Linked DNA regions of Homo sapiens: all the other regions are linked to region 1. The links come from fine-mapping of genetic effects on gene expression. A gene starts in region 1. Each other region holds a variant in brackets. All regions are shown on one strand. Distances are from middle to middle. Region 1 holds the start of PLXNC1 (plexin C1). Region 2 overlaps PLXNC1 (plexin C1). Region 3 overlaps PLXNC1 (plexin C1).

Evidence for each region. PIP is the estimated chance that this variant, and not a neighbour inherited with it, causes the effect.
Region 2: its variant is fine-mapped to the expression of PLXNC1 in pancreas (GTEx, PIP above 0.99).
Region 3: its variant is fine-mapped to the expression of PLXNC1 in whole blood (TOPMed, PIP above 0.99). The same link has a PIP of 0.9 or more in blood mononuclear cells.

The regions. Positions count from the first base shown.
Region 1 is chr12:94,147,225-94,149,981 of GRCh38, reverse strand. PLXNC1 (plexin C1) reads right to left here and starts at 1,405. Exons shown (of 31, transcript NM_005761.3): 1 at 1-1,405. The coding sequence starts at 1,010. RefSeq lists an enhancer at 279-378 and silencers at 579-818, 949-1,178, 1,249-1,498, 1,509-1,638.
Region 2 is chr12:94,182,325-94,185,081 of GRCh38, reverse strand. The region is part of intron 3 of PLXNC1 (plexin C1); the gene reads right to left. Among named protein-coding and RNA genes, the nearest start is that of PLXNC1-AS1, 7.2 kb to the right of the region's middle. The variant G/A (reference allele first, on the strand shown) is at 1,472.
Region 3 is chr12:94,262,343-94,265,099 of GRCh38, reverse strand. PLXNC1 (plexin C1) reads right to left here. Exons shown (of 31, transcript NM_005761.3): 21 at 1-21. Among named protein-coding and RNA genes, the nearest start is that of PLXNC1-AS1, 87 kb to the right of the region's middle. RefSeq lists enhancers at 94-857, 858-1,622 and a silencer at 1,813-1,892. The variant G/C (reference allele first, on the strand shown) is at 1,430.

The sequences.
Region 1 (2,757 bases):
TGGATCTCACTCATTCTGAAGAGGCAGAGCGCCGTGGTGGTGGGGGAGCGCCGCTCCTGGCCCTCTCCAGCGGCCGCGCTGAACACTCCCGCCCAGACGTCCAGGGCCTCCACTAGGCTGGAGGAGAGGAGCAGGCGGCGGCCGTCGGGGTGGCCGTGGCCGCAGTCGAGGGATGCCTGGCCCTGGAACAGCACCTCGGTGCTCTGCGCGATGCGCGCCATGCTGGGCCAGCCGGTGGCAGCGCCGCTCGTGTAGTTGTAGGGGTAGTAGGGGAAGTAGATGCTGCCGTTCCAGAGAAAGGCGTCCACGAAGTGCAGGCTGCCCGCGCCCTCGCACAGCTTGAGGCGCCCCAGCTCCTGCGTGGCCAGGCTGCGCCCCTCCGTGTCCTTGAGCGCGATGGCCGTGTCGTGGTCGGATGCCGCGGGGTTGCAGCGGCTCGCCGTCTCCGGCTCAGGCAGCACGTAGGTGGCGGCCACCGCCAGGTACCAGCGGTTGTTCCGGCCCGCGCGGTACACCACGCCGGCCGTCGAGCCCTGCGGGTGGCACGACACCACCTCGGTGCCGTTGCGCAGGGAGTTGCGGCTCAGGTTGCCCAGGGGCCGCACCTCGCAGGCGCCCCGGTCGAAGGTCCAGCCGGTGAGCAGCAGCCCCCCGAGGCCGGCCGCCCCCTCGCGGTAGGGCAGCAGCAGCTTGCTGAAGCTGCTCCCGGGCCGGGGCCGCGCGGGGGGCGCCAGCGAGACCGGCTCTGTGCAGTTGCCCGCTTGGTCCCGGTACAGGCGCGAGAGGCTGTGCTCCAGGCTGTAGTCCAGCTGGTCCAGGCAGCTGCCGCTCGCCACAAACACGCCGTCCTCCTGGCTCGCCGCGATGGCTCCGATGGCTTGCTCCGACCGCCACACGGGCTCGTCCGCGCCCCGGCCGGGAGCCGCCAGTGCCAGCAGATAGGCGAGCAGGGGCAGTGGCGCTGCGGGGCGCGGGGGGCGCGGCGGCGCCTTCCTCCGGGAGACCTCCATGGGGCTGGGGGGGCCGCCCCCGGGCAGGGCGCGCGGCGGCGACGGCGGCTCAGGCGCGCGGCAACGGAGACGCGGGCGGCGGCGGCGGCGGTTCCTGCGCGCGCTCGGGCTCCCGCGGCCGCCCCATCCCCGCAGCTCGCCCAGGAAGGAGAGCGGGGAGGGCGGCGCGCGGCAGGCTCGCTCCGGCAGCCTGTGCAGCGGCGGTGGCGGCAGCAAGCCCTGCGCGCTCCGGCACCGTTTCCTCCTCGCCCTCCTTCGCCGGAGAGTTCCTGTGTGCAGCGCTGGCGCTCGCGGGGAGGCGCGGAGGGGAAGGGAGGGGACGGGCGGAGAGGAGCGAGGCGGGCGGGGAGGGCTGGAGAGGTTGGGTGCGCTTGTGCGTTTCACTTTCCCATTGTGAAAGTGGGATGCAACTGGCCCCCTTCCTCATCCTCTCTTCCTCCTCCGCCCTCCGCCTCCTGCCCGCCCGCCCGCCCTCCCTCCACGCCCATCTCCCCTCCCCTCTTGATTCGGTGAGATAGGGAGGAGGGAGGTCTCGTAATTTGGGTTACTGTGTAGGTGGCCTCTTTCATCTATTCATAACAAAGCTCAGCCGCCCGCCGCGGCCGCCGCGGCCGCCACCATCGCCCCCTTGGCTCGCCTGGGGCTCCCGGGGCGCGCTAACGGCGCACGGAGCGGGCTCCCGCGCCCGTCCGCCCGCGGTGCTGCTCCAACGCCCGGTTTTGTTTACGACAGCAGCCGGGTCGGGGATACGCCAGGCGCGCGGAGCGAGGATCCAGGGTGCGAAGGGGTTGCAGCTGAGGCCCCGGGCTCGGGCCACAGGGCTGCTGCGAGAGCGGCTGACAGGTGTGGAGCGGCGAGAGGGAGGCCCCGGGGAGGCGCGCGGGAGACATGGCCGAGCCGGAGACTCCGGGGACCAAGGCGCCCCTGTGACAGGGTGTGGGTTTCCCCGGGTCGGATGAGTGAGGTGGCAGAAAGGCAGGCGCCACACTCTCGTTCTGGACAATCCCCAGGGCCGGAGCGCCCATATTTGCAAAGGTTCTCTAATCTCCCTTGGCAACAGAGTCCCAGGCTCTCAAGCCTAGCACTTGGAAAGTTCTGCTCACCATCTAACCTAATGAGCGGGGCTAACATTTACTGAGCACTTACTACGTGCCGGGTGCGCTTGTGAACTCACCACATGGGTTAAGACTCATAATTCTCATAACAGCCCTATTAATTAGTGACTGTTATTGTCATCCCTACTTAGTAGTCCAGGAGAATGGTTATAGAAAGGTTGTGGAACGTGCTGGCATTCTACTGCTGGTAGATATCAGAGCCGAGATTCGAATCCATATCTAGCCCCAGGGCCTCTTACATACCTGGCTCTAGTTAAGTGCCACCTGTGGCCATTGCCATAATCCCCCAGAGATCATTCTCTGTAGTGAGACTGAAAAGTTCCTCAAGTTAAATGCACCAACCAGCCCCCGCCCTGCTTTCTACTATTAGACCCAAGTCCCCGTATTTCCCTCGAGGCTCTCCATCTGTCTCATCATTACCCACTTTTATCCTTTGGACCCCCTGAGGTCTCACCACCTCACCCAGAGGGTGAATAACAGCTGGGTTGCCCCCACAGCCGCCAAGAATTTCTGAAGCACAGGGAATCATTGCCCACTGGGGAATAGGTTCATGATTTCTCGGAATGGGGCTTCCCAGAGGATGCACAAATGCCTCCCAGCTTCCCGGGGCAGCTGCGGGCACCATCAGCACC
Region 2 (2,757 bases), 35 kb before region 1:
CTTGTTTCCTCATCTGTAAAATGGATCACGACTTCATGGGGTTATTATGAACTATTGTCTGACAGGTACTAAATGTTCAATAAGTATTGGTTACTGCTATTATGCAAGAAAAGGGCTCCATGATCCAGCAAACATAAAACCTCAGACTGAAAAAGCAAAACGGGTTTCCTTAGCACAGGGCTTCTCGGAGCCTTTGACTATGCTGAGCCTCACAGTATTCCAGGAGGGGTATAGTAAGTAACAGCTGGTTCTGGGACCACTTTTGCTCAGAGCATTCTGTGGAATATGGGTCTCCAGAACATTCTCTGAGAACTATTACTCAGTCTATTTAAACACACAAATATAACTCTGTATAAGAGGGAGGACACTGGCTGGCCGTGGTGGCTCACACCTGTAATCCCAGCACTTTGGGAGGCTGAGGTGGACAGATCACTTCAGGCCTGGAGTTGGAGACCAGTCTGGCCAACTCTGTCTCTACTAAAAATACAAAATTTAGCTGGGCATAGTGGTGGGCGTCTGTAATCCCAGCTAGTCAGGAGGCTGAGGCAGGAGAATCTCTTGAACTCAGGAGGTGGAGGTTGCAGTGAGCCAAGATCACACCACTGCACTCCAGCCTGGGCGACAGTGAGACTCTGTTTCAAAAAAAAATGAGAGAGGGCCAGGCGAGGTGGCTCACGCCTATAATCCCAGCACTTTGGGAGGCTGAGGTGGGTGGATCACCTGAGGTCAGGAGTTTGAGACCAGCCTGACCAGTATGGTGAAACCCCGTCTCTATTAAAAAAAAAAAAATACAAAAATTAGCCGGGCATGGTAGCGTGTGACTGTAGTCCCAGCTACTAGGGAGGCTGAGACAGGAGAACTGCTTGAACCTGTGGAGGCGGAGGTTGCAGTGAGCTGAGATTGCGCCACTGCACTCCAGGCTGGGTGACAGAGCAAGACTCCATAAAAAAAAAAAAGAGAGAGAGAGAGAGGACACTAAAAATACTACATTAGACCTGCCCTCTAATTTAATAACAGACCGTAGTGACTATTCCATATCAATGCCTACATCTCCATATGATTATTTTTAGCGGCCCCGTATCATACCATTTTATGGATATCCCATAGCTTATTAGTTTGGCTGTTCTTATCTCCCCAAGAGCCTTCCTTGGACTTTGTCTCTTTAGGCGTTATATTTGCTCAGCCAGAGTTCAAACAGTAGGATCTCTAGCAGTAATCCTCAGTGAAGAATGCAGGGCTAACCAGCTTTGATGCCCAGTCAAAAACTCTTCCCAGGACTTCAGGCTTTGAATGATCAGAGGCTAGAACTTTTTGCTTTCTAGAAAGTGGGAACCCATCAACTACTGGTGGCTTTTCATAATGGTTCCCAGCCTGGGGTCCTGAGTTCTGGGGTTCCATTACTATCCATGAAGGAAGTAATGGGGGCTTATGAGCTATTTGCAATATTTCAGACAGCTGAATGGAAAAACAC[G/A]CATGGATTAAGGAAGATATCAAGTTTCTTTGCTTTGGGTTGGAATTTTATCAGCTCCATGTGGGAACACAGTCAGTACTCTGACCGGCAGTTTTGAGACGCCCTTGATAAATAAACCCTGGGAATGGGAACTGTTACTTAATATGTGCAGTTTGTTGGGTAGACAAAAGTCTTTCAAAGATGGGATCCCCAGGGAAGAAACATAATACAAAGTGTCTGCATGGTGAAGCAAATTGGCATAGGAGATTCTATATGGTGAAGGACTGGTTTACAAGCTCTGTGGGAAGATGTGGCCATCTCAGTGTGGTCATTTTGATATAACTGACTTTTCAATGTGCAAAGAACAGTATCGTCTTTATAAGAATACCAGAAACTACAAATTGCTTGCACATCTTATCTGTGACTCAAAAAGCACATGTAGATTGCTGTCATTGCTATTTTCCTTAGAATGACTGAAAGGAAAAGAATGGAAAACCAGGGTTGGGCTGAGAGTATCTGTTACATCCATTATATAATTATGTAAGTCTCAATTATCTTCTTTGCACTTTCCATGTTCAAACGGTCATAGGTCAAAACCACTGAGCCAGGGAATGTCCAGTTTTCACAAATTTTGGATTTAATATCATTTATCAGAGGCTTTAGAATCAGGGTTGAGTTTTTGTCACAGCCCTGCAAAGGCTAACCTATAGATAGATAGATAGATGATAGATAGATAGATAGATAGATAGATAGATAGATAGATAGATAGATACAGATATTCTTGAACAAGTTATTTAACCTCTCCAAGTCTTAGATTCTTCACATAAAATAAATTAATAACACATTTATTTTTATTAAATTAATAACACATTTCTTTTTCTTCTTCTTTCTTTTTTTTTTCTTTTTTGAGACAGAGTCTCACTCTGTTGCCCAGGCTGGGGTGCAGTGGTGTGATGTCAGCTCACTGCAAACTCCACCTCCTGGTTTCAAGCGATTCTTGTTCTTCAGCCTCCCAAGTAGCTGGGATTACAGGCATGCACCACCACGCCCAGCTAATTGTTTGTATTTTTAGTGGAGATGGGGTTTCATCATGTTGCCCAGGCTGGTCTTGAACGTCTGAACTCAGGTGATCCCTGCCTTGGCTTCCCAGAGTGCTAGGATTATAGGTGTGAGCCACCATGCCCAGCCTTTTTTTTTTTTTTTTTTTTTTTTTTGAGACAGGGTCTTGCTCCATCACCCAGGCTAGGGTACAGTGGTTTGATCATGGCTCACTGCAGCCTTAAACTCCTGGCCTCAAGTGATCCTCC
Region 3 (2,757 bases), 120 kb before region 1:
GAAGGGCTCTCCGACAGTCTCCTTGGAAAAGACACAAAAGTGACAGTTAGCTTTCTGTGGAATCCACTGTACTTTCCAAAGAATTAAAGTTTCTGTTTACAGCAGTAAGGCAGGAGACAGGGTTTTCTAACACTCAACATGAAACGCCCAAGAAAATACACGTTGCTCCACTTGGGATTGGATGCAAAACTCAGAAAACCGCCTCCTCTCTCCATCGCGAATGCACATCTGCACACGCGCACGCGTGCACATTCACAGCGACGTGCAGTACCCACAGTATACCTTGTTATTTTATGTTTAAACTTACATATGGCAGACTAATGCTCATCAGTGGGTTAATGCCTAGGAACAGTTAGATGTGGAGAGTGTACCTTTGTTTACATTCGTATTTAATCACCCTTTAGCAAGCCAGAAATAAACGACATTTAAAAAAATGCACAAGTATCCTTAGTAACAAGGATAAATGTAAGAACATTTTATACATTTGCCAAATACAATGTTTTTTGGTGTTAACAGCACTTCTCGAAGGAAGCAGCCTGCCGTTCAACAGTTTGCAGCCTTATCTCCTCTCCATGGGCCAGGCCAGGCCCGGCCCGGGCAGTTCCCAGACACACACTGCACAGTCCCACCTGGACATGTTTTCCGGTGCTGGGCCAGAGGGACTCCATCTTCTTCCCTGAACCAGAGCCAATTCCATTTCCTCTAAGGTTTTTCTCCAAACACTCGGCCCATCCCGATTGGCTCTTTCTACAAATTTAAGCCACATGCATTTTTCCTGGCTGGGGGTGGGGCTGCCTCCCCTGCTGTGATGGAAATGGCTCACATTCGCAGACACGGATGTCTGCATTCCAAAGGACTCTGAGCACCTCAAGTGGGAGGCGGTGTGTTCTGTTTCCACGGCATCCTCCCAAGGCACTTAGCCCTGGGTCAGCTGTAGAGTATTTGCTAAATAACGAACCTTCCGTAATCAATGGACATTAGGCCTCTGTGGTGGAGGAAGAACCGTGGCTGGGAAGTCAAAGTGCCTTAGTGATGACGAAAGGCCAGCCACGTGGCTGGGGCTCGAAGCGCCAGTTAAGAGTCAAGCTTGACAAGCGATACGTCCAGCTGGGAAAGGAGGATTCCACTGGGTCTCACCTGCTTTCCCTTGCGCAGGCAAGTTACCTAAGACATCTTAAGTCTCTCAGCATCCCACCCCAACCCTGTCCCTTCCTTTATACTTGCTGCAGGAATATCTGCCCTCCCCAGTCCCCGGGCTTCCTCTTGCCACCTCCTGCCACCCTGCAGCTTCTATCCCTGCTGTGATACCTCCTTGAGTCTCCTCTTCAGTGCAGGGCAGAAGTGGAAGTTCAGAAATTTCCAAGGTAGGGAGGGCAGCAGGACTAGTGCATGACATTTAATTCTCATGAGAAACTTCCTTTATTTAGTG[G/C]TTTACAACCTCACCCTTCTCTTCTCTTTCCCTCCACCGCCCACCTCCCCCACCCCAAGTAATGCCCTGACCACAAAACTTAGAACCTCTTTTCCTCCAGCACAGATCAGAAGGGAGGCTGAGAACCCTTGGATAGGGGCTGTGTACTCCCGCAGGGGTTGGAGTCAGGGGGCCAGGTGGGCTCTCGGGGGCTGTGTGAAGGGACAGGTCTTGACTCAGGAGGCCTGTGGTCAGGAATTCTCCAGAACTTTCTGGAGAGTAGCTAGACTGAGCTAAGTAACATCTGGCCCTACACTCTGCCCATGCTCCTGGGTCTAACCCTGGCTAATCACCAGAATCCCTTGCGGGCTCTTGTTAAGCATTCAGATGCCTGAGCTCCACTCTAGACCTACAGAGCTGCCATCTCTCTGAAGAATGAGGCCTGGGTATCTGTAGTTTTCATTACCTTCCCGGGGCCGGGGGCGGGGAGGCGGTGGGGGAGGAGGATTCTGATGTGTGGCTGATTTGGGGAATCACAGGGCCATGAGGTTTCTCTGTCACCACTAAACACAACTTTTAGGCGAGCCACAGCCGCTGCGTACGTGATTCCCCTCCCCCAGGGGCCAGGCTTCGACACTTTAACAGACCAGGGCAGATTCCATCTTTTCAGGGCACAGGGCGGTGGCTAAGAGCTCTCGGACCCTGGTGCTGTCCCACAGTAGCAGTGAGATCTGGGGAGAGTCACAGCTCTTCTGTGTTCCAGTTCCCCCATATACAAAATGGTCATGAAGACACTTAGCTCACAGGACCCTTAAGGGGATGAAATGAGAAAAGATAGGTAAAGCTCTTAGCATGCTGTCTGGCACATTCAATAAATGGTATTATTATTTTACCCACAAATCCTTGGTGTCTTGGAAGGGAAAGTTACCTGGCGGTCACGGAGCTACTGTCACCCACTAAACGTCTGTGGGGTAGGACAGGAGGACTAGGGCTGTCGGTGTCCCAGACCCCCTTGAGCACCTGGTGGAGGGACATCAGACCCCTGCACCAGCGGGAATTATTCCACTGAAAGTGAAAGTATCGCCGACTGGCTGGATGCCACTTCCTCCTGGCGAGCCGAGCCGCCCCCTCACCACTCAGAGTGCTCGAGACGCTCTTGAATCAGCACTGTGAAGTCTTGACCCAGAATGCTTTGCTCAAGGAGGCTGTTTGGGCTCGCAGCCCAGATTTTCTGAACATCTCACCCCTCTAATGCCCAAGAGCAGCCCTTGAAAGCTCAGAGTTAAGAATCACAAGATCCAGTAGAAAGAGCTGGAAAGGGATTTAAAGGCAACGCCCACACACGCCTG